4 linked regions of the Homo sapiens genome follow. The protein of the gene in region 4 purifies or fractionates together with the protein of the main gene of each other region. This does not show direct contact. Each region holds a gene or a part of one and is shown on either strand. Other genes may lie near its edges.

Evidence for each region.
Region 1: the proteins of PRMT2 (region 4) and POM121 purify together in Homo sapiens (affinity purification with mass spectrometry; 4 studies listed by BioGRID and IntAct, with this or other methods). This does not show direct contact.
Region 2: the proteins of PRMT2 (region 4) and FHOD1 purify together in Homo sapiens (affinity purification with mass spectrometry; 4 studies listed by BioGRID and IntAct, with this or other methods). This does not show direct contact.
Region 3: the proteins of PRMT2 (region 4) and ANTXR1 purify together in Homo sapiens (affinity purification with mass spectrometry; 4 studies listed by BioGRID and IntAct, with this or other methods). This does not show direct contact.

The regions. Positions count from the first base shown.
Region 1 is NC_000007.14:72,935,078-72,942,101, forward strand, and holds part of POM121 (nuclear envelope pore membrane protein POM 121), read left to right. Parts: intron 1-3,512; coding exon 3,513-3,604; intron 3,605-4,258; coding exon 4,259-4,332; intron 4,333-4,769; coding exon 4,770-4,891; intron 4,892-5,336; coding exon 5,337-5,439; intron 5,440-5,739; coding exon 5,740-5,916; coding exon of another isoform or gene 5,917-5,934; intron 5,935-6,759; coding exon 6,760-7,024. UniProt on the Homo sapiens protein: Essential component of the nuclear pore complex (NPC). The repeat-containing domain may be involved in anchoring components of the pore complex to the pore membrane. When overexpressed in cells induces the formation of cytoplasmic annulate lamellae (AL).
Region 2 is NC_000016.10:67,230,482-67,237,505, forward strand, and holds part of FHOD1 (FH1/FH2 domain-containing protein 1), read right to left. Parts: coding exon 6,994-7,024; intron 6,902-6,993; coding exon 6,758-6,901; intron 6,634-6,757; coding exon 6,485-6,633; intron 6,253-6,484; coding exon 6,076-6,252; intron 5,954-6,075; coding exon of another isoform or gene 5,930-5,953; intron 5,589-5,929; coding exon of another isoform or gene 5,535-5,588; intron 3,992-5,534; coding exon 3,876-3,991; intron 3,787-3,875; coding exon 3,176-3,786; intron 1,714-3,175; coding exon 1,558-1,713; intron 1,358-1,557; coding exon of another isoform or gene 1,339-1,357; coding exon 1,156-1,338; exon of another isoform or gene 1,155-1,155; intron 1,069-1,154; coding exon 949-1,068; intron 869-948; coding exon 707-868; intron 311-706; coding exon 120-310; intron 26-119; coding exon 1-25. UniProt on the Homo sapiens protein: Required for the assembly of F-actin structures, such as stress fibers. Depends on the Rho-ROCK cascade for its activity. Contributes to the coordination of microtubules with actin fibers and plays a role in cell elongation.
Region 3 is NC_000002.12:69,240,155-69,247,178, reverse strand, and holds part of ANTXR1 (anthrax toxin receptor 1 isoform 1 precursor), read right to left. Parts: intron 1,955-7,024; coding exon 1,694-1,954; 3' UTR 1-1,693. UniProt on the Homo sapiens protein: Plays a role in cell attachment and migration. Interacts with extracellular matrix proteins and with the actin cytoskeleton and thereby plays an important role in normal extracellular matrix (ECM) homeostasis.
Region 4 is NC_000021.9:46,638,666-46,645,689, forward strand, and holds part of PRMT2 (protein arginine N-methyltransferase 2), read left to right. Parts: intron 1-4,869; coding exon 4,870-4,974; intron 4,975-5,640; coding exon 5,641-5,823; intron 5,824-7,024. UniProt on the Homo sapiens protein: Arginine methyltransferase that methylates the guanidino nitrogens of arginyl residues in proteins such as STAT3, FBL, histone H4. Acts as a coactivator (with NCOA2) of the androgen receptor (AR)-mediated transactivation.

The sequences.
Region 1 (7,024 bases), on a different chromosome or scaffold from region 4:
TTGCCTTTCATCTACTGATTACTTTGGATGGAATTAACATTGTTACAATATTGACCTTGTTTACTTCTAATCTATGAACATGGAATGTCGTTATTTATTTATTTAACTTTTGAGACAAGGGGTCTTGCTCTGTGGCCCAGGCTGGAGTGCAGTGACATGATCATAGCTCACTACTGCCTTGAACTCCCAGGCTCAAGCGATTCTCCTGCCTCAGCCTCTTGAGTAGCTGGGACCACAGGCATGCATCACCACACCTAGCTAATTTTTAAAAACTTATAATAGAGACACAGTCTCACTATGTTGCCTAGGCTGGTCTCAAACTCCTGAGCTCAAGCAATCTTCCCACCTTGGCCTCCCTGAGTGCTGGGATTGTAGGCGTGAGCCACCATGTCCTGCCTCCTTCATTTATTTACATCATCTCTATTTCTTCTCTGTAGAGGTTTTACTTCTTTTTTATTAGATTTACAATCTCGGCTCACTGCAGCCTCCACCTGCTGGGTTCAAGTGATTCTCCAGCCTCAGACTTCCGAGTAGCTGAGATTACAGGCACGTGCCACCACACCTGGCGAATTTTTGTAGTTTTAGTAGAGACAGGGTTTCACCTTGTTGGCCAGGCTGATCTCAAACTCCTGACCTCAGGTGATCCACCTGCCTCTGCCTCCCAAAGTGCTGAGATTACAGGCGTGAGCCACGGCGCCTGGCCCTAGGTATATGCTATTCTAAATAGTGCCTTCATATATGCTATTCTAAATAGTGCCTTCAAAATGTGATTGGCTGTGCTGGTGTGTAGAAATACAACTGATTTTGTATTCAGAAAGTTTGCTAAATCTGTATGTTCTTTAGGATTTTAGTACATACACTCAGGTCTATGATAATGAGTTTTTCCTTTCCTCTGCAATCTTATTCTGTTTATGTCTTGCTGCACTTGGCTAGGACTTTAAGTTGAATAGACATGATAATAAACATCCTTGTCTTGTTAGATCTGAAATGAGTGTGTATGTACAGTCAATGAAGTAGAGGAGTAATACTTTTTTCCCCTAATTGTTAAACCAGTTGTTCAGTTGTCTTCCAGTCCTAGCTAATCATTACAGTCTCCTTTGGCATTTCTGTTTTTTCTTTATTTTTTCTTGGTAGAGATGAGACTTCACTATGTTACCTAGGCTGGTCTCAAAACTCTTGGGCTCAAGTGATCCTCCCACCTTGGCCTCCCAAAGTGTTGGGATTACAGGCATGCACCACCACACCTGGCTAATTTTTGTATTCCTTTTTTTTTTTGAGACGGAGTCTTGCTCTGTCTCCCAGCCATTCTCCTGCCTCAGACTCCCAAGTAGCTGGGACTACAGGCACCTGCCACCACACCCGGCTAATTTTTTGTATTTTTAGTAGAGACGGGGTTTCACCATGTTAGCCAGGATGGTCTCAATCTCCTGACCTCGTGATCCGCCCACCTTGGCCTCCCAAAGTGGTGGGATTACAGGCGTCAGCCACCGTGCCCAGCTTGTTTTTGTATTTCTAGAAGAGATGAGGTTTCACCATGTTGGCCATGCTGGTCTGGAATTCCTGACCTCAGGTGATCCTCCTGCCTCAGCCTCCTGAAGTGCTAGGATTACAGGTGTGAGCCACCTCGTCTGGCCCCTTTGGCATTTCTGACCCTTGCTTGCTCAGTGATGTGTATCCCTCAGTGTCTGGAGCACATTGTGAAGAAAAATGCAAGGTTTATGGTTTTTATTGTTTTAATTTTATTACTTTAACTACAGGTAAGGTCTTGCTATGTTGCCCAGGCTGGTCCGAAACTCCTGGGCTCAAGCAGTTCTCCTGCCTCAGTTCTGAAAGTGCTAGGATTACAGGTGTGAGCCACCGCACTCGGCCATCTATGTGCTTTTAAAGTTCCACAGGTGGCTAGGTGTGGTGGCTCACGCCTGTAATCCCAGCACTTTTGGAGGCCAAGGCAGGCAGATCACGAGGTCAAGAGATCAAGACCATCCTGGCCAACATGGTGAAACCCTGTCTCTACTAAAGATACAAAAATTAGCTGGGTGTGGTGGCATGTTCCTGTAGTCCCAGCTACTCGGGAGGCTGAGGCAGGAGAATCGCTTGAACCAGGGAGGCGGAGGTTGCAGTGAGCTGAGATCGCGCCACTGCACTCCAGCCTGGTAACAGAGCAAGGCTCCGTCTCAAAAAAAAAAAAAGTTCCACAGGTGACTGAGCCGTCCTTTGAGAACCAGTGAGGTAGTGTCAGGGATCTGAAGTGATTGAAAATGCCGCTTATATATTCAATCCTTGGATCCCTTTGATGAATTTTTGTATTCTGCTCTTTTATATGCCTGTAATCCCATGTTTTTTAAACCATTGTGCTCTGGCCTTTCTTGCTGTTTGAGCGTAACTTCAACTGTTATTGCCGTGAGCAGTCTTCTCAAGCTCCTCCTGGGCCCGGCTTCCTGATGGTGGCCTCACTGAACTGTTCTGCTGCTTACCACTTGTCTGAAGCTTCCTCTTTTCCCTTTTTGAACTCTTATTAAGCATTGCTGGCTTCCTGTTTGTACTTATATGATGTAGCTGGTACTGGGTAAGAAATCACTAGCAGCTTTTCAAGTAGGAAAGACGGTCTGAGGTGACAGTTTAGTGGCTTTGTAATTAGGCTCAGCACTTACGAGACTATTTGCAGTGTCCGCTCTGTGCCATCTACTTTGCTGCTGGTCTGTGGAGGAAGCAGAGATGAAAACACCGTCTTTGCTGTCAAGAACTCACCTGGTGGAAGAGGCAGATGTATGGATAATCATCACATGATGATAAATGCCATCGTTGTTGCAAAAGTCATAAACGTTACGACAGCATATTTTTAAAATGAAGTTAGTAAATTAAAATAGAAAATTTAATAGAAGCAAGACTAAATTAGTTTACTGGGTTATCTTCTTTAATTTACTTCTATCCTCTCCGTAGACAGTCTGGCACAGGTTTGAATGTGTCCTGGCTCTTCATTACTGAGGCTAACGTTCCACCTAATATATGCAAAAGTGTGTCCATCCCTTCTACCTTTATTCGCATTCCATTACTTTTATAGACTTTTCTTCTTTTGCTTTCATAATTAATACTGGCAGTTGACTTTCTTTTCAGGGGTCTTTCTTCACAAACAAATTTTTTTCATTTTCTTTTCTTTTTTTTTTTTTGAGACAGGGTCTCACTCTGTCACCCAGGCTGGAGTGCAGTGGGGCAATCTCAGCTCACTGCAGCATCCTGAGTAGTTGGGACCACAGATGCAAACCACCACACCCAACTGATTTTTCAGTTTTTTTGTAGAGACAGGGGTCTCGCTATGTTACCCAGGCTGGGCTCAAATTCCTGGGCTCAAGCGATCCTCCCACCTTGGCCTCCCAGCATGCTGGGATTACAGGCATGACTAACCATTTAACCATAAAGAATGTTTTTTTAGTCACTTGAAAAGAGACTTTGTCGTGTTGAGGGTCAGATGCTAAGTTATCAGCAGGCTCAGTCATGTCCCTCTTGATTTTTAGCTCTGGAAGAGAAATGGCCCCAGTTCATCACCCTTCTCTAGCCCAGCCTCCTCCCGCTCCCAGACACCGGAGAGGCCAGCAAAGAAAATAAGGTACTTGGCATTCTCCTGCAGTTTTCATTTGCTGCGTGGACAGGCGGGGGTGAGGAAAGGTGGGAAACGAACCTGGCTCTTAGGCTTTGTGCTGCTGTGACTTGGAGAATCAAAGAAACTTAAGTCCCTGAGAGGTACAATGCAGTACCCACCCGAAGTGCTGTCATCCCTACAGTCTTGGATACTGACTCCAGTGGCCTCTGGCTGTCGCCTCCCACTCCAGCATGAGGGATCGGGTGCAAGCACAGAGGCCATGCAGAGTGGAGAGCAGAGAGAGTCAAGTCAGCGGGCAGTCGCCTTCAGGTTCTTGACTCGAGCTGACCCCCTAGGTGCTTGCAGTTGGCTGGAATGCCACTCCCTCAGGGATCACATCTGTGTCTAGAACTCCCAGGGACTTGATAGGTTGTAAGTAAGGTTTGAAGATTATTGTTTTGTGCTTGTTTTAAGACAAAAGCTGTCTTCATGGCCTCTGTGAACAGCCTCCCTTCATTCTGTTGGAATTTCCTGTTGACTTTTTTTATCCTGGCATACTGAGATCTTAAATGATGGTTGTTTTAGACATTGGCCACTTGGTAGTTAGGAGGGTGTGAGAAATTATTTAATACTTCAGCCAAGAAGCCTTTCTAGACTAAATTGTTCCTTTTTTCCTGACAGAGAAGAGGAGCTGTGTCATCATTCCAGTTCTTCAACTCCATTGGCAGCAGACAGGGAGTCCCAGGGAGAAAAGGGTAGGTTGCTGAGCCAGGAGGAGGGGCTGCTGTTGGTGGTGGAGGTGTTTGTGGAGGATGTAGAGATTAATACCTATTGAAAAAAGGTCTTGAGCATTGCTATGTCTAAGGCATGTTAGATACAAAGAGAGAGATTTCCTCTCCTTCAGAAGTTTATAGTCTGATGAGGGAGAAAGGCTACAGACAGGGACTAACGATTGGATAGAGGTAAGCTCAGTTTGAGTCACCTGTGGGTGATCCCAGTAATTACTGCACAGTAAGCGGTTTGTGTGCGCGCCTTAATCTTGCAAACACCATCCAAGCAACCAAACCATAGAAGATTGAATCTTTTCAGAGATACCCATTGAAAACTCAATGTGAAATGCGAAGTGGGTAGACACAACCATCCATTTCTGGAAGAGGGAAGGAAGCAAACGAGTCTTGATTTCTTTCTTTAGCTGCAGATACAACCCCAAGGAAGAAACAAAACTCGAATTCTCAGTCTACACCTGGCAGCTCTGGGCAGCGTAAGCGGAAAGTTCAGCTGCTGCCTTCTCGGCGAGGGGAACAGCTGACCTTGGTATGGTCTTGTCCATCTACTCCTGCCCTCCCCGGCTTAGCTCTCCTAAGTATTAGGAACGCTAAGGACAAGTTTCTTCTGATTTTTTTTCTAATTTATTTTTGTTTTTGTTTTTTGAGACAACATCCCTCTGTCACCCAGGCTGGAGTGCAGTGGCTCGATTTTGGCTAACCGTAACCTCTGCCTCCTGAGTTCAAGCAATTCTCCTGCCTCAGCCTCCCAAGTAGCTGGGATTACAGGTGCTTGCTACCACGCCTGGTTGATTTTTTGTGTTTTTAGTAGAGATGGGGTTTCACCATGTTGGCCAGGCCGGCCTCAAACTCCTGACCTCAAGTGATCCAGCTGGCTTGGCCTCCCAAAGTGCTGAGATTACCGGTGTGAGCCACCATGCCTAGCCTTCCCGTTTTTTCTGATTGGCCTGACTTCTTCTTTTTCACTTTGGTAGCCTCCACCTCCCCAGCTTGGCTATTCGATCACTGCCGAGGACCTAGACTTAGAGAAGAAGGCTTCATTACAGTGGTTCAACCAGGCCTTGGAGGACAAGAGCGGTAAGGAGCACAGATTGTTGCACACTGGAGAGGTTTCAGGTGTCTGTTTTCTTTGGTTTTATTTTGGTGTTTGAAAAAATGGGTTTCTCTGGGAAAATCCCAAGTAGGGTTCCATGTTTTCTTGTGGTCTTTCTCACCTGAGATATCCGTGTTGGTCTTCACGGGAACTGGACAGCAGGGACCACTGCAATTGAGGGCAGGCATTCCTCCATGAGCTGTGCTGAGAGCCTGCTCTCCGACAGGCATGTGGAAAGAAGTCCCAGACAAGCCAGGACTGCTTCACCTTTCTTTCTTTCTTAGATGCTGCCTCGAACTCTGTCACTGAGACCCCACCTATCACTCAGCCTTCATTTACCTTTACCCTGCCTGCTGCTGCACCTGCCTCCCCACCCACCTCCCTCCTGGCCCCAAGCACCAACCCACTGTTAGAGAGCTTGAAGAAGATGCAGACTCCCCCGAGCCTGCCACCCTGCCCAGGTGAGCTGGAGTGGGGCCGTGGATCCAGCCTTCTGAGCAGCATCCCCGGCTTGAGTTGGAATAAGGGCGTCGTGCCTGTCAGTCGCTGGAGATTGCTCTGCAGGCCGAACGCACCCTGGCTCAGCACACCGGAGCGGGCCCACGTTTAACAGCGCCAGAGCCCGCATCAGGAAGTGTTAGAGAAGGGGTGCTGCGACGCTCAGGATCTGAAGCCTGGCTCGTAGCTGCCCTGAGCCTCGCCTTCCTCATCTGTCAGATGAGAATGATCTTCCCTGTGCGGCACCTCTGAAGTGTGAATGTGGTGGCGTGGTCAGGATATCCTTGCCTGTCAGAACCACTGGTCCAGAACAGCACTGCTTCCTTTCCCTCCAGCACTTCGAGGGCTGCTGGTGTTCCCGGCCCAGGCCTTCACGGCACTGCGCGCGCACACCTCTTTATCAGACGGTAACCTGGGGTTCGTACGCACCCTCCCTGCTCAAGGGCAGAGACTTCCCCATTCATAGTTGTGTGCTCTTAGCGCCTGGCAGGTGAGCTTAGTAGGCAAATAAAGTATATCTAGATTCATACGTGAACTTCAGAGTTCAGACAATTGGACTGTCTTAGTCTCTACACATTAGGCCCCCATTTAGGCCCCATTTTATCCCCTTCTGTCTGATGATCTGTGAGGTAGAAATAACACTTCCTTGATTTACTGTACAGGCCTGTAGTGTAGACTTAGCTGAGTTTATTGACTGACTCTTGGATCCCAGGCTCTGTGGTAGGCGTGGGGAGGACACTGAAATACTGAATACCATCATCTTTGAAGTGTTTATTCCAATTTCACATTTTCTATTCTTCTTCCAGAATCTGCTGGAGCAGCAACCACTGAGGCCCTCTCACCTCCAAAGACACCCAGCCTCCTACCCCCGCTGGGTTTATCACAGTCAGGGCCGCCAGGGCTGCTCCCCAGCCCCTCCTTTGACTCCAAACCCCCGACCACTTTGCTGGGGCTGATCCCTGCTCCATCCATGGTACCAGCCACTGACACCAAGGCACCTCCAACCCTTCAGGCAGAGACGGCTACCAAACCCCAAGCCACATCTGCCCCGTCCCCCGCCCCCAAGCAAAG
Region 2 (7,024 bases), on a different chromosome or scaffold from region 4:
CAGGTAGAGCAGGAAGGCATGGAACCTAGGCAGGTCAGAGTAGGGAGGGACAGTAAGTCCTGCTTATTGTCTGAGGGAGGGTGGTGGCCGTCCTGCCTCTCTTGGGTCCATGCCCCTACCTATTGCAGACACGGCGGTGCACTATCCTTAGCATGGCAACACGGCGGGCACACTGGTCCAGGAAGTGGGTGAGGCGGGCACGCAGGGCTGGGGCCAGCTCATGCTTGGCCAAGCTCCGCAGGCTCTCCTCGGCTGCCCGGCTCCGGCGCTCCAGCTGCCCCAGGTTCTCAGTCAGCTGTTCAAAGTCCACCTGAGAAAGCAAGGGGGTGCACATACTGTCCCCCCACACCCTGTAGACAAGACATGGCCCGAGGCTGCTTCTGGGCCAGAGTGGCCAGCTTGGGCCCTAAGGACACAGACATCCAAATCTCATAGACTAGTGCAAGAGACACAAGTCCATCTGATGTGAATGGGGAGCAGAAGGTTTACTGGGGGAAGTGGCAGTTAAACAGACCCAAAGACTGAGTAGGTGTGGCCAGGCCAATAGAGGAAAGAGCATTTCTGGCAGAGGGCATAGCTCACACCCAGGTGGCTGGAGCAAGCCCTGGCACAGCAGCCCAAATGGGGAGAAGGGGGAGGAGCCAGGCCCAGGAAGCAGCGCTCCTCATGCCTTGTCCGGCCTTGGTTGATTCTGGCAGGTGCTAACCTTGGCACAGCGGGTCAGGGCAGGGATTTCTGAATAGAGGTCAGAGGACTCAGGCCGGGTCTGGAGCACTAGGGAGCAGAGATGGTGTAGCAGTGACTGTCGACGCACCGTGTCCTTCACCTCTGACACCTTCTCCAGGTAGCTCAGCTCAAAGCCGCTGCTCTGAAAGGACCCTTTCTGAGCCTGGGCCTGGTTGGCTCCAGAACCCTGACTCCCCCTAGTCCCCATGTACTCTCACTCACCTGGGAGCCATTGAGGAAGTTGCCCACCGCTAGGAGGGTAGCCAGGATGCAGCGGAAGGTGGCATTCTGTACCAGCTGTTCCATACCCACTTTCAGGTCAAACAGTGGCTCAGCAATTTCCTGGTATGGGAGACCAGGGACTCTCAGACTACATGGTCATGATGCTTACCTGTCCCTACTGACTGTCCCACTCCAAGACCCAGGTACCCGCTCCATGCTGTCATAGTCCAGCTTGAAGGCCCAGAGTTGTAGACGAGCAGCGAGGCCGCCAATGGAGGCAAGAGTCATCAGGAAGTTCTCGGCTGGGCCCAGGGGTATGTCAGGGTTGGCCAGCTGGGCTTCCTCAATCTTCTGCCGCTCTTCCTCCGTGGGCATCATGGTCAGTAGCTTCTGAGGATGTAGCCAGAGCCTGACATGGCCCCCTCAATGCAGGCCTGAGGCCTGAGGCATTGGTCTTGACCCCTCAGTCATCTAGGGGAGGCCCCAGTGTCTGGGGACTGCCCTGCAGAAATGCCAAGCCCATGCCCACCACCAGAGGGACAGGAAATGCCCACCTACCAAAGGAGAAGGCCAGACCTCCCCCCAACACCCATAGCTGGGTGACCTCACCTCAATGCCATCCTTGCTGACAGCAAACTCATCAAAGTTGAGCAGAGCAGCCTTAATGACATGCACAGGTGGCAGTGTGGTTAGGCCGATGTTGATGGCGTTGCTGCGCTTGGGGTCCAGCACTGTGGTCATTGTCCGGCGGCCCTCTCCAGCTTTCTGCATGGTTGGGGGAAGGGCAGTGTAAGACTGAGGAAGGGGGCCTGACGCGGTGGCTCACGCCTGTAATCCCAGCACTTTGGGAGGCCAAGGCGGGTGGACCACGAGGTCAGGAGATCGAGACCATCCTGGCTAACATGGTGAAACCCCATCTCTACTAAAAATACAAAAAAAATTAGCTGGGCGTGGTGGCGGGCACCTGTAGTCCCAGCTACTCGGGAGGCTGAGGCAGGAGAATGGCGTGAACCCGGGAGGCGGAGCTTGCAGTGAGCTGAGATCACACCATTGCACTACATCCTGGGTGACTGAGCAAGACTCTGTCTCAAAAAAAAAAAAAAAAAAAAAAAGACTGAGGAAGGGACTAGCTGGGACAGCAACCTCAGAGGGCACTCCAAGGCCCTCCTCTAGATTGCCAAATGATCCCACAACTGACAAACTGGCAACCTGGAATGTGTAAGTCATGGGGATGAGCTTAGATTCTTTTGAGACAGGGCCTGGCTCTACCATCTAGGCTGGAGTGCAGTGGTGCCATCATCGCCCACTGCAGCTTATCTTCTGGGATTTTCCTGCCTCAGCCTCCCAAGTAGCTGGGATTACAGGCGTGTACCACCATACCCAACTATTTTTTTTTTTAACATTTTTTTTTCCGCCTCCCAGGTTCAAGCAATTCTTTTGCCTCAGCCTCCCAAGTAGCTGGTATTGCAGGCATGAGCCACCACGCCCAGCTCATTTTCATATTTTTAGTAGAGACGGGGTTTCACCATGTTGGCCAGGCTGGTCTCAAACTCCTGGCCTCAAGTAATCTGCCTGCCTTGGCCTCCCAAAGTGCTGGGATTACAGGGGTGAGCCACCATGCCCGGCTAATTTTTTTTTTAACATTTATTTATTTTTATTTATTTAGTTATTTTTGAGACGAAGTCTTGCTCTTGTCCCCCAGGCTGGAGTGCAATGGTGCGATCTCGACTCACTGCAACCTCTACCTCCCGGGTTCAAGTGATTCTCCTGCCTCAGCCTCCCGAGTAGCTGGGATTACAGGTGCCCGCCACCACGCTTGGCTAATTTTGTGTTTTTAGTAGAGACGGGGTTTTGCTAATTTGACCAGGCTGGTCTCGAACTCCTGACCTCAAATGATCCACCTGCCTCGGCCTCCCAAGGTCCTGGGATTACAGGCATGAGCCACTACACCCAGACCAACTTTTAGTAGAGATAATGTCTCACTATGTTGCACAGGCTGGTCTCAAACTCTTGGATTACAGGTGTGAGCCACCATGCCCGGCCACATTTAGATTCTAGTTGGGGCACTGCTGATCCCTTGTTAGGAGACCTTGGACAATTTCCTACTCCTTTCTTTGCCTTGGTTTCCCCATGTGGGAAGTGAGTGACTAGCTCCAACAGGTCAGATCCTTAAGCTCTGATTCCCTCCTGCCTCCCTTGGGGCTACCTTGCAGATGAGTGGATTTACCTTGGAGGGCAGCACCTCTTTGGCACGAGACTCAAAGAGGTGTTCCAGTCGGGCCGTGTCCACTGAGACAGGGTCCAGTGAAGCCCAGAGGGTGGCGCAGGGCCCAAAGCGGCTTGCAGAGACTCCATGGCCCCCAGCCAGCTTCAGCTCACGCCAGAAAAGTTTTACTGTCTTCCTCTTAGTGGGGAGGGCTGAGCTGTCAGGCACTGAATGGGGAAGAGGGGCAGCCAGAGGTAGAGGTGGAGGTGGTGGGAAGGGGCCTTTGATGGGTGGGGGAGGTGGAAGTGGGGGAGGGGGGGGTACTCCCGAGAGCAGGGGCAGTGGGGGTGAGGGAGCTGGGATGTCTTTCCCAGCCTCCACAGACTCTACATTCAGCATGTCCTGGTCTTCATCCTCCCCTAGATCTGAAAAGTCCAGGTCCCCAATAGAGAGCCTGGGTGCACGGGTAGGGAGCTCCCAGATGGGCTCAGCCTTGGGGCTTGCTGGTATCAGTGGCTCCTTGGGCTCTGGTGCAAGGCTTCGCTGGGCCCGGAGCAGGACACAGGGGGCAGGGCTCTGGGGTGTTCTGGCTGCAGGGGCTGTCTCTGGGGAGTCCCAGAGTTGCCGGGCATCTAAAGAAAGGGAAGGAGCTGTCAGTGCCATGCCCCCTGTGGGGCAACAAAGCAACAGGCAGGCTCTGCCTGCTCACCCACCTACTCACCTGGGTGTCCACCCGCCTCATTGGGCATGGCCCCGGCAAGTGTCTCTGCCCGGCCCTGGGCCAGCGCAACCTGCTTCTCTGTTTCTGCTGCCGCCACATTCTCCAGGAACCGGGCTCTGAGGGAAGGTGCTTGTCACTGACAGCGTCTGACACACCCCAGCCCAGGTGTACATGCCTTGCTGAGCCCCTGGACACCACCCCCAATTGCAGGCACGCACAGACACACAGGGAACAGTCCATGCGCTGAGCAGACCAGAACCACACCCCCCCCAAGGCCAGCCCCTCTTCAGTCCTCCACATCTGGGGAGGATTACTACCAACCCAGCATTCCCAGGTGAAAACACAGGGAGAGGATCTACTTAACATCTAACTTGCAACCTCGTTCATGTTCACTGTCCTGGTTTTTTTTTGGTTGGTTTTTTTTTTAGAGACAGGGTCTCACTCTGTCAGTCACCCAGGCTGGAGTACAGTGGTGTGATCATAGCTCACTGCAGCCTCACTCTCCTGGGCTTGACCCTCAGCCTCCCAAGTAGCTGGGACTACAGACATGTGCCACCACGTCCAGCTGATTTTTTAATTTTTTTGAGGAGACAGGGTCTCACTGTGTTGTTCAGGCTGGCCTTGAATTCCTGGCCTCAAGCAGTCCTCCCACCTCAGCCTCCTGAAGTGCTGAGATTACAGGTGTGAATGATGCACCCAGCCAAATTTTAAAAAATTTCTTTGTAGAGATGAGGTCTTACTGTGTTGCCCAGGCTGGTGTCTTGAGTCTAGACAAGGACTCTTAGAGCAGGGGAAGGGGATAGCTGTCCCAATGGGCATATCAGGCTGTCCCTCCCTTGGCATGTCTGGTAGCTTCTGGGAGCCTATGCCCAGGAAAGGGCCTGGTAAACAGGCCAGGTGCGGTGGCTCACGCTTGTAATCCCAGCACTTTGGGAGGCAGAGGTGGGTGGATTACTTGAAGTCAGGAGTTCGAGACCAGCCTGGCCAACATGGTGAAACCCTGTCTCTACTAAAAATACAAAAATTACCCAGGTATCCTGGTGCAGGCCTATAATCCCAGCTACTTGGGAGGCTGAGGCAGGAGAATTGCTTGAACCTGGGAGGCAGAGGTTGCAGTGTGCTGAGATCACACCACTGCACTCCAGCCTTGGAGACCGAGCAAGACTCTGTCTCAAAAAAAAAAAAAACAAAAAAAAAACGGATGTGGTAAACAGTGGACCCTCAGTTTATGCTGAAATAATGGGTGCAATCCAGTGTTTCTTTTCTGGCCCCTCCAGCCTCTGTCAGCTCTCAGTCCCTGCCTTTCCCTCAGCCTTAGGTTACCCCTCCACCCCCACACCACACACCACACAGCACCCTAGGTCCCCTCCCTGCTCGCTTCTGAGCTGAAGACTTGGCAGAATGAGCCCCAGGTTGGGTGTCCACATCCCCATCTCTGGCTGCTAAGGTGTTGCTATTGAAGCACAGGGACCACTGTGACCCCAGTGAATTGGTTCCCAGTGCTTAGCCTTTGGGTTACCGAGGAGGCATATGTCTGGGAGAGGATAGGCCTGAGTCCCCCAGCTTTGGTTGCATCAGGCACGTGAAACCCCTGCTGGGGGAAGCAATGCTGAAGCCCTGAGCACATGGCAGGCCTGGCAGGCCGGCCTCTGTACTTACTCCAGCCTGGCCTGCCCAGGAGGGGACTGGGGGACGGGTGGGCTCTCAGGGGCCCTGGGTAGGGGGGATGAGAGGAAGAGATGGTAACTGTGGTGTCAGCTCCATGGTTGCTCATACCCACACAGAGCTAGGCAGTGATATTGGGGTTCCTTCCCAGCCGCAGTGGGAAGTGGGGGAAGGTATGACACGAGGAAACTGGAAGTGGAGGGGAGAGACTGACGTGGAGCAGGACAGGGTGCTGGAAGAGACAGAGGCAGCAGAACAAGGGAGTGACAGATAGTGGGCGGGAGACATGACAAGAGGCAAAGACAGGCAGAACGTCGGAGGAGACAAAGGAAACCACAGGAGGAGGAGATCCAGTCAGAGCCGAACCCCACCCGCTGGCAGTCACTTACCAAACGGAAGCAGTTTGGTGAAGTCTGGAAAGAGAGAGAGAGAAAGCACGCGTTTGGGCAGAGGAGGCTGAGTGCCCATGGAGGGGCGCAAAGCGGAGGGACAATGGGAGAGAGGACTCCAGGGTGGCCTCTGTCTCCCTACTTACTTGTAGATGCTCCTCTCGCTGGAGGTGTCAGCTGAGGGTGCCACAGAGATGGTAGGAAAAAGGTTCACTGAAGCTTGGAGACCGGAGGGAGGGCCCACAGGGCTGGAGGCGGGGCCTGTCAGCAGGGCGGGGCCGGTGGAAGAGGTGGGGCCTACCGGTGAGGCGGGGCCTGTGGGGCTGAAAGCAGGGGCTGTCAGTGGGGCGGGGCCTGAGAAGCTGGAGGCGGGGCCTGTCAGTGGGGTGGGGCCTGCGGGGCGGGAGGTGGGGCATGTCGGTAGGGCAGGCCCAGTGGAGGAGGTGGGGGCTGTCTGTGGGGCGGGGCCTGAGGGGGTTGGGGTCAGGGCCTGTCAGCTCACTGGGCCATGCCTAGTAGATCCACCCTTTCCCATCTACAGATGCTCGTACTTACCCAGGTTCCGGGGCACGCGCGGGGCAGCCCCCGCCTTCCAGAGAACGGCGGCTCCTCTTGCCCTCCTCAGAAGAAGGCTTTCGTCGTTCCCGCCGCCCACCAGCGCCTGGGGCTTCTTCGATGTCTCCATCCTCCAATTTCAGGGCGTTCTAGCAGAGGCGGACCAGGATGTAAGAAAGTGGTTAACGTGTATGCAGGTGGGGTGGGGCGCTGGGGACTGCGCTTCTCTCTTCCCTCTTTCCAATCCGCCTCAGAGCGTAAGGCCCGGCCCACCTCGTAGAGCACAAGCTGCGTGCGCAGGTCGACGTCAGTGCCCGCAGTGCCCAGGTGGCGCTGGACCAGCGCTTCCATGCCCTGCTGCTCCAGTGCATCCGTCACATCGTAGAAGGAGTCCTGGTCCGGGAGCGCCGCCAGCGTCTGGAGGGCGGGGATAAGAAGGCAAGGCTGAGGTTGGTGGGGAGGTCAGGAGCCTGAGCATCCCAGAGCTGGCACCCAGTCCTTGGCCACACCTTGTTGATGAGGGTGACCGTGTACACCAAC
Region 3 (7,024 bases), on a different chromosome or scaffold from region 4:
TCTTTGGAATTGTAATTTGAGAAGGATTGTGAAGAAATCAGTGGGCTTAATAGGAAATAGTGCTGTGATTGATTAGCAATGTCTGCCATGGCCACAAAAATTGGTATTGATAAAATAAATGCATCCCAGGCCCTTATATCTCTGTTCTAAGTAAAGTGAGTGAATGAAGCTGGCTTGATGTATTTTTGAAGGATCTTTGGAGACCATAGCCCAAGCCACTAAATGTATATTTATTTTATATTCTGCCTTGTTCCAGAAAAGATCTGAGAATTTGGGTGGCTTGGGACAGGAATTTTAGGATTTGTGGAAAGCTAGAGAGAGAGATAATTTTGAATAGGCTGATGCAGGAGGTCCAAGACAATGATCTCTGTTTTTATCCCTGGGTGATGAAGCCCAGTGTTTAGCAAGTGATTATAGGGCTTATTGATTAAACAGATCCAGAAAGACCTGGATAAATGGGGTGAGTCCTAGGCATGGTGGAAATTTCAGGCAGAGCATTTCTGTGTTGCAGATCTGATGTATTTCCCCTTGGTTAACAGCTGAGGTTCTATGTCGAAAAGCCAAAGAGAAGTATATTTGTATACACACACATGCCTTATGGGGGTTAATCAAAGATCCTTATTATGTCAGGACCATTGTCTCTCAGCTCTGCCCAGAAGTCTGTGGTGCATGGCTTTACCAAGAAAAAAAACAAAAAACAAACAAACAAAAAAAACTAGTGATATTGTGTGATAGGTCCTAATGATGGTATTTTGGGAAGATCAACTTATGTTTATCTCTGGAAAACAGGATAAACTTCATACCTCAAGTGATTTAAACTGAAGCCAAACCTTGATTTTTAACATGATTCATTAACAGGTTGCTCTTCGACAATGCCATTGTCTGTTGATTTAGGGTCCATGTCTGGCCAAAGCCAGCCACCTCTAGCTGCTGATGGCCTGTGGGTTTTAGAAACTGGCTGATGCTCCCATGAATACGCCCCTGTCTATTGCACACAACTGATTTCACTTACACATCAACATAGCAACATACCTTTTCCATCAGTAAACACCTGCTCCCCTTCTCACTTGGAAACTGGAAGAATTTGCAAGGAAAAGATGCCATACATTTTTTATGTACCTGCAAATCCCAGAAGAACATCCTTCTGCATACCCGTCTGATGTTGAGTTTCTTACCACACCAGGGACCCCAGCATTTCCAAAGTTGTAGGCAAAGTTTTCCTCTTTCTTGGGTGGTGCACAGGGGTGAAGGTCCTTAGGCTCCTAGGCCAAGGGTCCAAAGTCCAGGGATGGAGGTGGAGTAGAGGCAGGAAGGCAGCATTTTAGAAACCCAGCAATGTATTTCTTATCCAACTCTGCATTTCACCTTCAGATAAATGATTTTCTTACTGGTCTCCATGAGACATAATCCTGTTGAGAGCATCTTGCAGTTTCACTGTCTCTGGAACCTTCTAGAGGTGATAGATGGCTGGCTATAAATCTGACTGTAGTTGCCTCATCATTTGTTTTCTGGCAATTTAAAATATCTGTTTCTTTCAGCTGATCATGATTGTTGGTATACTGGCATTGCCAACCAATTTTTAGAATGTGTGAAGGTCAGTGGGCTTTATCACCACTCCTCTTCTCTAACTGGAAAGACTTGTTCTAACATCTCCTGAAGTTTCTGAGAGAGCCCAGAGCAGGAACTTTGGGCTCTAGACAGAAGGCCTTGGAGGAGGGCGGGAGGGAGGAGGTGCCCTGTTGGGAGGTGGAGCCTGGGGAGGAGGGGGAAGGGTGGAAGGTGGGGACGGGATGGGAGGGGTAGGGGCGCTGGGGGGCGGGGGAGGGCAGTGGGGCGCAGGAGGTGGGGGAGTGTAGATGGGGGCAGGAGGCGGCGAGGAGGTGTGGTAGGCGTTGTTGAGTGGGTACTTGGCTGGCTGGTTGTTCTTGACCCTGGTGAAGTTGATGCAGCGCCCCTAGAAAAGAATTGGAGAGAAGGAAACGTGAGCGGACGGCCTCACATCAGGGCCTGTGGTGCTGTGGTGGGCGGCTTGCAAGCAATATGTGGAAAGCTGGCCCCTGTTGGTGACAACTCTCTAGTGGCACATAGTAGAACTTGAGGACAAGTGAGCTCCCCACTTCCTTTTCCTGGACTGTGTTGCAAAACTGTTAAAATTCATCTTTTCCTGGAGTCTAACTCTCTCAAGTGGGAGAAAGGGAATGAGACTGACCTTAACTGGGTGCTGTGTACAGAGGTCATTAAACTGAATCTCCTCAACAGCCCTGCTAACCGGGTATTATTAGCTGTTCCACTGCACAGATGAGGAAGCAGAGGTTCAGAAAAGCGGAGTTACTTTTTCAAGGCCACACAACTAGGAAGAGATGGGGTTGGTGATTCTAACCCAAAATAGACTCCAGAATTATTCTTCCTGCTGCTACTTTGCCTTCTGGAAGGGATCCTCATATTTCATAAACAAAAGTAATTTATTTTGATTAGTTCAGTTACATGCCTGGAAATGGCAGAAGGTTAACACCACGAGCTTCTCCTATATTGTAATTCAAGGATGTAGCTAGATTCTGTGATTGGAGTTGTCATGGAGGCCCTGATGCATTTACCTCGTCTGTGCCCCCTCAAACACTTGTTCCCGGTAATGAATGAAGGAGGCAGCTATCTCTACTGATGTGATCAATACAGCTTCCTCATCCACGCCTTGCCTTCTCCAAAGTGCTAGTAAATAATAAACAGTTTGTCCTGCCCTTGTTCTGGCTGTGGGAATCCCTCTTCTACACGCGGCTGCACCTGTGCAGGTAGCCTTAGTTGTTGTCACAGGAACTGACAACCTGTGTACCTTAAGAAATACAACCTGGGGACATTCTATTGCCAAGCAGGCATCTGCCCTGAATTCTGCTTTTCTCCTACCCTTCTTGGGTACTCAACTGAACAATGCAGAGAAGACCCTGGAACCCCTTAAAGCAGCCTCCTGAAAGTCAGCGTCCAAAGCCAGCCTTAAGTAGCCCTGTCTCCCCTATAGTATCTGCTCTGCTCTCCAGAGTCACAGGCATGCTTTCTCTGTCCCCCAGTAGATACCCACTAGTCTCATCTGGTACTCAGGAACTTCTGTGCAACACTCAGCTCTGCAACGGAGGGGAGACAGGGGTTCTCCTGCTCACCATGTTCCATGCTGGCGTGAGCTCTCTTCGCTTGGCCACTTGCCTGGGTGGGTACCCACCCCTCTGAGGGCTCCTGGCCTCCCTCACTTCCCATGCCTGTGGGGTATCTTATTGTTCTCTCTCTGGCATGTCTGGATGCCTACAGAATTGCTCCCCACAGCGGCTGAGGTGGGGTTGCTCCTCTCTGAGGCTGCCCTCTATGCTGGGCCTGGGGCTGGGGTGTGGAATTGTTCCTGGCCACATGCTCCAGGATGGAAGTTATCCTGTGGTGTCCAGCCTGAACGAGATATGTCCAGAGAGCACAGAGTTTCCCTTTCCAGGCCTTTTAGGGATGAGCTTGAATGAGAATGAAGAGGGTGAGGTGTGGAATTTGGGGAACAATTGCTGCTTAAATTAGCTCTAGGACAAGAGGAAAATGAGAGTGTGCTATTAGAGACTTGGCTCAGGATGGGCCACAGAAGGGACAAGCCACATGCTGAGCAAACCTTCCCTCCTTGTGCACAGCCCTGTGCATCCTTCAAGTCATAAATCATGTCCCTTTTCCCCCAAACATTTCCCCCACAGTGACTCCAGCCTCCACTTACCCTTTGCTTCCTTGAGTTCTCTAGTTACAGCCTACACCACACATTGCAGCCTGCATACTACAGTTGTTTCATCTGTAAATGCCTTGCCTCCCTGGCCAGACAAGAAACTTCTGGAAGGCTGCAGCCTTGTTTTGTGCTTTGCTGCTCCACAACTCACAGCCTCACAGGGTGTTCTGCATGGTACAGGGACTTTTGGTAAAAACGGAGTTGTTTGAGCCACTCAGGAAAAGTAGGGGGTGGGAAACCTTAGCAATAAAGTGAAAATTAATTCCTAGGACATAGCATTAGTCAGAGGGCATCTTGGTGAGGAAGGGCCAAACTTGATGGGACTGCAATTGGTTTAGGAGTTGCAATGCTATGTTTAGATGCCAGCACCCCTGTTTCTCTGAGCTTGCATTTCATGTGATTAAACCAGGTGCTAAGCCGGGGAGGCTGTGACTGGGGTTCCACCCACTGCAGAAAGAATTTACCCCCTCCTCGCTGCACTGCCCAGAGCTCCCGGGTTTATGTCCAGCCTTTCAGGCATGATGCCGATTTTGTAACCCAGTACTGTACATTCCCGGCTGTTCAAGCTGCCCTCTTTTATAGCTTTATAAATCTAAGCCTTGGTTACAGTTTATTTATGATTCTGGATAAAGCTTTCCTTTAAGATGTGAGGGCCCTAATGATTACCATCTGTGATGAATTCCCATGACGACAATTTAGAGCTGGGATTTACTGTGCTATCTGTTCTGCCCTTCGTTCCTAGACATGCAAAGTCAGACAGAGAGGCTCAAGAGATTCATGTCCTTGAAAGATGAAGGGAAACCCTCATCCTGGGGAAGGAGCTGCTGGTGCCTGGGGTTGAGTGCTCATCTGGCTTCAGATGTCTTCTAGAGCTGGCCACCAGGCTGGCCGAGAGGGGAGGCTAATTAATTAATGAATCCGGAAGCTCATGTACTTATTCTCTTCAATTGAAATAAGTCACTCTACTGTTTTTACCAGAGGCTGTTTTGTCCAGAGACAAAATCGGGAGCTCCCAGCCTTCTTCTGCCAATATCTCTGTTCATAATCCATGTTAGGATTCCCAGGGGTTTTCAAAAAAGTTGAAAGCATCCACAGACTAAAAGATGGTCTCTCACATCTGTCCCCTGAAGATGGGATGAAAGAGGGCAGTGGGGGCTGTGGGGGAGTGAGGTGGGGAGGAAGACCTGAGGTCAGCACTTCCAGCTGCCGCCGTGGTGTCTTGGCCAGAGCAGCAGAGGGATGGAGATGGGGTGGGGTAAAATGGTGATGGTGGAGGCAAAGAGTCCTCCTTCCTCTGGTCAGTAACACCCTAGGGGTACGCCCATGGGTCACCTAATCCAGAGCATTGTGCTGTGGTTCATTATAGACCCTCCCCTCACTCCCCACCACCTGGTCCTTTAGAGCTGAGCACAAAAGCCCAGAGCTCTCATCGAGCAGCCAGAGGGGAGGGGCAAGCTCAGAGCTTCTGCGTGGCCCCCACTGTGGGACACCCCACAGTGTGATGTGAAGTGGGGGTAATCATACCGCCTGTCACTTACAGGTATTAGGAGGACTCCCTTAATCAGTGTTATGAAGGGCTTGGAACAGTGCCTGGCGCATTGTGTTTAGTAGTCTAATGCTGTCTCTCTGCAGGTGGGGATGCGCAGACACAATCAGACCCTGTCTGTGGTGGAAAGGCCAGTTGGAGGTGGTATCAGGTGTTCCAACTCCTAGTTTAGTGTCTTCTGAGTGAGCTGCAGACTAGAGCTTCTATACTCCACATCTGGCTTCTATAATACAACTGGTAAATAGGAAAAAATGTAGCAAAATTGTAGGGAAAAACAAAGCAGCCCCTAGAGCCTGCACTCTTATGTTTGTTCTCTCCTCCTGTTGCCACCAAGTCCTGTAACTTATTTCTTATAGGACCTCCCACAGTGCACTGCACACAATTTGACTGATGTTGAATTTATCTTCCTGAAAAAAGGTGCAGACTCGGCATCAATAAATCCCTGGGGTAATATACAGTAAGACCCACAGTCTTTGTAAGAGGGGTGTGGTTACAATAAGTTCTTAAAACCTGGAGTCAGAGGTGCCAGCATAAACACGGTAACATTTAGACCATATAATTGGCCTAAAGATCAGTTTACACAACATCGTTTTTTGCTTGCAAGAGGATAATAGAAAGGCCAGATGTTCTCACCGTCATGTAGGCCAGCAAATCTGCACCAGTGTTTGGTTAAAAGGTTGCTAGGACGATTGGAACTCTCGCTTCATAACACTGGTCTTTGTGACCCAGTTTTATTTTCCACAGTATTGGTTTTGGGTGGTTTGATTCCGATCCAAGATTTGGCTTTGACCTCAGTTTACCTCAGCATCCTCATTTACAGGAATGAATGCCAATTATTTTCACACATTAGCAAAAATTTCTCAGATTAAATTCTAAGAAGAAAATGCAACAATATCTCCAGCTAAATGAAGGCTTAGGATGCCAGCTGGCCTTCCTCCTAGGCTTGAAAGTGCCATTTTGATTTGGGTGTATCTAATGGTGGTGGGAGGACTATTTGAAACGTCCAGGTACATTAGTGTCTTTACTTATCATCAAAACTCTGTCAGTTATGTATCAGTATTTTCATTGTACAGAAAAAAAACTAAAGTCTCACACCTATTTAAATAACTTGCTCGAGACTACACAGCCAGTAAGTGGCAGAGTGGGATTAAAACCCAGCTCTGTTTGCCTCAGGAACTCATCCTCTTTATACTGTATTCCTGAATATAGACTAAAAGTGCAAATGATTTCTTGAAAGACTTGTAGATAGCATCACACAGTGTAGCACTTGACCACAATCCAGCAGCTCTTGACATAGTCAAACGATTGTTCCCGAACCTAAGTCTGGTCAATTCACTCTCCAGCTCAAAATTCTTCAGTGATTCCCCATCACCTTTAAAATAAAAGCCAAACACCTCCACTGGCATACACAGCCCTTTGGGATCTGGTGCGTGCTTATGGCTTTCAATTGATGTCTTACTCTTTTCTTGCAAGATGTCCAGCTTGGTCCACCCTATGCCCTCCACAAATATTTGTTCAATGAGGAATATAATTTGCCATGTGGAACCCTACTCTAAATGTTTCCCATTAGAAACATTGCTCCTTAACTGGTTGGTGAGCACCTCTGAGGCACCCTCAAGGGCTTCTCCTGTGGAGCCTAGTGTTGCTCTAAAGAGCCCAACATTCAAGTTGGCACTCAACAAGTACTGCTCACACACCGGAGCTCCGAGGTGCAGCAAGATGTCTTAGAAAGCTCTGAT
Region 4 (7,024 bases):
TTTTGTTATTTCAATTTTGCTGACTGGTCATGGTAGTATTTCAGTAATACTTGTGTTCATCCTGTTAATACCACCCTCCATTATAGAAGAGATGTCTTATAATGGTAATTTGTGTTTTATCTCTTTTTTTCACACTTGATCAATCTTTTCTTAGGGTTTTATCAATTTTATTTTTATAAAGAACCAATTTTATCTGTGTTGATTTCTCTGTTTTTCTATTTCATTGATTTCTGCTTTTGTCTTTATTTCATTCTGTTGTATTTGGGTTAATTTTTATAACATCTGAGAGGGAAGCTTAGATAATTGATTTTAAACCTTTCTTTAATAGTCTTTAAAGCTATGACTTTCCTCTAATCACTGCTGTAGCTGTACCTCACATATTTAAATGCATTTTCATTCTTCAAAATATTTTCTAATATATTCAATGGAAATTAGAAGTTTTCTGGGCTATTTGAAAGTATGTTGACCAATTTCTAAACATATTGGAAATTTTACTTTTTCTTATTTAATTTTGCTTTGATTACATTGGTTAGAGAACATAACATCCTCTATAATTTCAGTCTTTTGAAATTTATTCAGGCTTGCTTTATGTTCTAATCATATGGAATATGTTGGTGAGTGTTCCATGAGTACTTGCAAAGACTATGTATTCTGCAGTTGTTGAGTGTAGCATTCTATAAATGTCATGAAGATCAAATGTGTTATTAGTATTGTTGAAATCTCTATATCTTTTCTGATTTTTTTTGCCATCTTCTATCAGTTACTAAAAATTCTCCACTATGATTGTAGATATATCTATTTTTCCTTTTGGTTCTATCACTTTTTGCTTTGTATATTTTGAGTCCCTGTTATTGGGTGTATATATTTAGTATAGGTTTTGTTTTCTAGATTAATTGACCTTATTTTTTATAAAACATCTGTCTTTTTACCTGTTAATAAATACTTCTTTTCTTGCGTGTACCTTTTTTTTAATGCTAATATAGCTGTACCAGCTTTTTTTTTTTATCATTAGTGCTTACATAAAGTGTGTGTGTGTGTGTGTTTGTGTGTGTGTGTGTGTGTATTTTTTTTCCCTCAACTTAAGTCCTTATATTTAAAGCGTTTTTCTCGTAAAGAGCTAGTTGGGTCTAGCTCTTAGGTCTGTTTTTTTGTTTCTCTGTTAAACACAATTTCTGCCTCTTAATTGGAGTATTTAGTCTATTAACACTTCATGTTATGACGAATGTGATGAAGTGTAACATTTTGCTGTTTGTTTTATGTTTGTCACATTTCTTTTTCCTGCATGTCTCCATTCCTGCCCTCTTGTGGATAAATAAAGGATTTTCTATAATTCCATATTACCTCCTTTAATAGCTTGTTAGCTGTATCTTTTTATATTGTTTTAGTGTTTTCCCAAGAAATTGCAGTATGCATCCTAATTCAATTTCAGTCTTTTTTTTAACTACTTCATAAGGTAAAGATCTTAGAAGTTAGTTTCATTTACCAGCGTCCATATTTTTGTACTGTTGATGTAACATTTTAATTTTACATATGTTGTAAACGCCACAATAAATTATCATTATTGCTTTACGCTATCGAGTCTTTTTTTATGAAGTAAAATAAATAGTCTTTTTTATGTTTCCCCACATATTATTTGCCTTTTTTGAGGTCTTTCCCTTTTTCTTGCATTCTGTGTTTTCATGTAGGATCATTTCCCTTCAACCTGACAACTTTATGTTTATATTTACTAGTGTGAGTCTGCTGTGTCAAACTATGAAATGTGTTTTGCCTACATTTTTTTTTTTTTTTTTTTTTGAGACGGAGTCTCGCTCTGTCGCCCAGGCTGGAGTGCAGTGATGCGATCTCGGCTCACTGCAAGCTCCGCCTCCTGGGTTCACACCATTCTCCTGCCTCAGCCTCCCGAGTAGCTGGGACTACAGGTGACCACCACCACGCCCGGCTAATTTTTTGTATTTTTAGTAGAGACGGGGTTTCACCATCTTGGCCAGGCTGGTCTCAAACTTCTGATCTCAGGTGATCTGCCCACCTTGGCCTTGATGGTTTTTTTTTTTTAATTTTGGAAAAATCTCCACCATTATCTCTTCATTTATTTTTTTCTGCCTCATCTTCTGTCTTCTTTTTTGGGGTCTCCATGTAAACATAAGTTAGAATTTTTGCTGCTGTTTGACATGTCTCATGCTCTATTCTTATTTTTTTTTTCATTTTGTGCTTCAGTTTGGAAAATTTCTGTTGACCTGACTCTTGAGGCGCTGATCATAAACAAGATAACTGGGAAAACAATATGTTTGTAAAACAATTTCTTGAGATGTGAAATAGTATCTATATTGTACCAAGAGTAGTCCCAGCTACTTGAGAGGCTGAGGTAGGAGGATTGCTTTAGCTTGGGAGGTGGAGGTTGCCATGAGCCAGGATCATGCCACTGCACTCTAGCCTGGGTGACAGAGGGTGACCTCATCTCAAAAAAAAAAAAAAAAAGCGTATTCTTCAACCCTGGCATTCTATCCTGCAGAAATAAAATGTCATCACATAAGCTTGTCTGTGCACAGACTTCTTTTATTGCAGCATCGGTTATGGTGGTAGAAAACTGGATACCAAGACAAAGTCTATCAAAGGGGGATGGCTGAAGAATCAAGCGGAATTCCTGCTATGGAATATCGTATAGCCATTGAAGGTAGTAAATCAGGGTTCTAACAGTTGGAGAGTTTTTCCAGAAGGTATTGTGTAAGAAAAGCAAAGTGCAGGTCAGGCGTGGTGGCCCACGCCTGTGATGCCAGCACTTTGGGAAGCTCAGGTGGGCAGATCACTTGAAGTGGGGAGTTCGAGACCAGCCTGGCCAACATGATGAAACCCCATCCATTTCTACCAAAAATGCAAAAATTAGCCGGGCGTAGTGACACACGCCTGTAGTCCCAGCCTCTCGGGAGGCTGAGGCATGCGAATTGCTTGAACTGGGGAGGTGGAGGTTGCAGTGAGCCGAGATTGTGCCACTGCACTCCAGCCTAGGCGACAGAGCGAGACTCCATCCTAAAAAAAAAGCCAAACAAAGAAACAGCCTGTGTGTGTGTGTGTGTGTGTGTGTGTGTATACGTGTACACAGGGCTTTGTGTGTGACATGGGCATGGTGGAGGTGTGGAAGGCCGCACACCGGGGGGTTAGTAAGGGTTGCCTGGGCTGGGTGGATCGGGGATGGGGTGGAGAGCAAGCAGAGGGCAGTGCTGCCTTAGAGTGAGTCATGCTCCTGGCATAGGGAAAAGCACGAAGGGTACAAATAGACAGTAAGGTAAAAAAAGATGCCAGCAAGTATTTTAAAAACGCCTAACCACACAAAGAGAGGGAAATGGAAGTAACAACAGTGATTTTTACCCATGAAATTGACAGAGACTAAAGTGATTGGTATCTATTGAGTGAGAGTGTGGGAAGATTGGTGGTTCCCTCTCAGCAAGCGGTCCAGGGAACACCTTTCTGGAGAGCACTGGGTGGTAAAACCAAAAGCCACATAGTCTCAGTCCATCAGGTTCACATTCAGAGACTTACCCTAAGAAGATTAAGGTACATACAGAATGATTTATGTTGAAAGAAGTTCATCTTAACATGATTTAGAATAGTAAAAACTGAAAAGTCTAAATGTACAAGACTAGGAAACTGGATAGGTAAGTCCTGATAATTCATAGACTGGATATTAAATAGTGTTAGAAGTATATTTAATAAGAAAAATGTTCAGAGTTTATAAAGTGAAAACCATAGGCCACAGGCTTATTGTGTGAACCCAGTGAATGCTTTGTACTTATGTTACGTGTCCACTTTTTTAAAAGTCTGAAAGTATAAACACCAATGTGCTGTCTGTTATTATCTGTGATCAGTGAGCAAAATTACAGGAGGTTTTAATTTTCTTCTGTGTACTTGGTGTTTTCACACATTTTCTAAAGTAAACACGAATTACTTTTATGTTTAGGAAAATGTGTTTAAAATGTATGTATTGAGACAAGGTTGATTCATTGAACTGGAGTGTGTGATCTGAGGTTCTGCCCCCTGCAGTGATGTCTTCCAGGCAAGCTTATTCTTATATAAAGTGAACGGCCAGGCATGGTGGCTCATGCCTGTAGTCCTAGCACTTTGGGAGGATGAGGCAGGTGGATTGCCTGAGCTGAGGATTTCGAGGCCAACCTGGGCAACATGGTGAAACCCCATCTCTACTAAAAATACAAAAAATTAGCTGGGTGTAGTGGTGCACACCTGTTGTCCCAGCTACTTGGGAGGCTGAGGCATCAGAATCACTTGAACCTGGGAGGCGGCAGAGGTTGCCCTGAGCCGAGATCATGCCATTGCCCTCCAGCCTGGGCAACAGAGCAAGACTCTGTCTCAAAAAAAAAAAAAAAAAAAAAATGGAGGGGTTGGGGGAGGCTCCAAGGACCTGTGTGGGTCCAAGCTGGGCTCTGCTGCCTCGTGGAGGTTTGTGCCATGCCATCAGCTCTTTCCACAGGCCCCTGGCTGTGCCTGCCTGGGGCGCTGGGCCCCTGGCTCTGTCCTCACACTGGTTTCTCTTCATGGGGTTGATGATCACCTTCAGGAAGCAAAGCTGATGAAGGACAAGGGCTCCTCACCAAATAGACACTAGTGGTGCCTGTTTCTGACTTCTTGCTTTGATGTTCTCTTTTAGGGTCCAGATAATTTTTTTTTTTAGAAAAGAAATGTAGAGTGAAGGTGACAGCCTTTGATTATAGTAGTAAAGATGATCCAAATAGTTTGTATAATAAATACTTGGACACATGAATCTGTATTTGAAATTTGAAACCATCCTAATAATATAGCCAAAAAAAAAAAAAAAAAGCTCCAGCGTCCTCTCCTCACGCTTTCCTTGGCTTTGAGCAGGGAGAAGAGCCTGCTGAGTGCAGTGAGGCCGGTCTCCTGCAGGAGGGAGTACAGCCAGAGGAGTTTGTGGCCATCGCGGACTACGCTGCCACCGATGAGACCCAGGTAGCCACACGTGGTGGTTAATGCTTTATGGCTTTCAGCATGTTCAGTGTCAAAAGGAGATAAATTTTGCAGACGTCACACCAAAGTTAAATGAAGAGGTATTCAGATGCGTAGGGCCACACAAGACCTGTGTGTGAAGCTCACAGCCCAGCCAGTTCTGCCTCAAGCATGATGTAAAGATACGAGGCATGGAGTGGGGACCCTCAGCCAGGGGCAGAAGCACCTGTTCTGGTTTCTACTTGGAATGTAGAACCCACCCAGTTAATGAAAAGTAAGGCTACCAAATATATCAAGCTATATCTGCTTGGACATAGCTTTGTTTACTTTGTGACAGGAATTTCTTAGAGTCAGCCTCCAGTAACTCAGTTGGCATAGTTGAGTTACAATGAAGAGGCTGTTGAGAAATTCTCTCCTAAGCCATTTGAAAATGTTTACTCCTTCTTTTAAAAAATATCTGTTAAGCTGTGCCCTCCTTTCAGGTAGATGTTCCAGAGGCATCGCTAAGTCATGGTGTCACTTGCAAACATTCTCAGTTGCTGTCATTACCCACTGACTCCTGTTTGAAATCTCTGTGATTTTGTCACCATTGATGGGATTTATCACTGAGCCACATTTGAAATACCAATGACTGGTTTTCTTATTGAATTTTAACTTTTTTTTTTCCAGCTCAGTTTTTTGAGAGGAGAAAAAATTCTTATCCTGAGACAAACCACTGCAGATTGGTGGTGGGGTGAGCGTGCGGGCTGCTGTGGGTACATTCCGGCAAACCATGTGGGGAAGCACGTGGATGAGTACGACCCCGAGGACACGTGGCAGGATGAAGAGTACTTCGGCAGCTATGGAACTCTGGTATTGCTTTCTAAATTCCCTGTTCAGCTGGCCAGGCGGTGGGTTCTCTCTAGCTTTAGTTCTACTGCAACGTTCAGAGCAGGCCCATAGTCTTACAGGCCAGAGCTCCTCTGTTGTAGCCACTCAGCTCTGACATGGTTGTGTGGAAGCCACTGTGGATGACACACAAAGTGTGCACTGTTGTGTTCCAATAAAACTTTATTTATGGATCTTGAAATTTGAATTTATACTGTACAGTTTTCATGTGTCACAAAGTATTTTCTTTTGATTTAAAAAAATCATTTAAAAATGTAAAACCCACTGTTAGTTTGGAGGCCATCCAAAAACAGGTGGTGGGCTAGATTTGGCCCATGGCTTAGTTTGCCGACCCCTGGCTTAGAGATATGATTTGAGCAATGAGATTATGTGCGTGCTCCCTCAGTATTTAAAAAAAAAGCAGTAAATTTTACTTTAAAAATGAAATTAGGCTGAGTGTGGTGGCTGACACCTGTAATCCCTACACTTTGGGAGGCCAAGGCAAGAGGACACTTGGCTTGAGACCAAGTGTTCAAGACCAGCCTGACAACATAGTGAGAAAAAATAAAAAATATAATTCGTCTCTACAAAAAAAAAATTAAAAAAAAATATAATTAGCTGGGCATGGTGGTGCACGCCTGTAGTCCCAGCTACTCGAGAGGCTGAAGTGGGAGGATTGCTCAAGCCTTGGAGGCCAAGGCTGCAGTGAGCCATGATGGCGCTGTTGCACTTCAGCCTGGGCTACAGAGCGAGAGCCTGTCTCAAAAAAAAAAAAAATAGAAAAAATTCTATAAATCTATGAATAATACTACTTAGGTCAGGTGTGGTGGCTCATGCCTGTAATCACAGGACTTTGGGAAGCTGAGGTCAGAGCATCACTTGAAGCCAGGAGTTCAAGTCTGTGGTGAGCTATGATTGCGCTACTGCACTCCAGCCTGGGTGATTGAACCAGACTCTGTCCCTAAAAAAATAATAAAAGCCCAGCTTCTAAATAGCTTACCGAAATTTTTTCCCCACCATGGAGAAATGCCTATAACCCGATGGTCCAGGCAACAATCTCTGGTTACATTTTAAAACTAGATGAAAACAGTTACTTGCAGGATGAATGTTATAAAAATGATGTTAGTTGAAAGAAGGAATAGGGCAAAGAATCTATAACGTTTGACTCAATTATATAAAGTTAAGA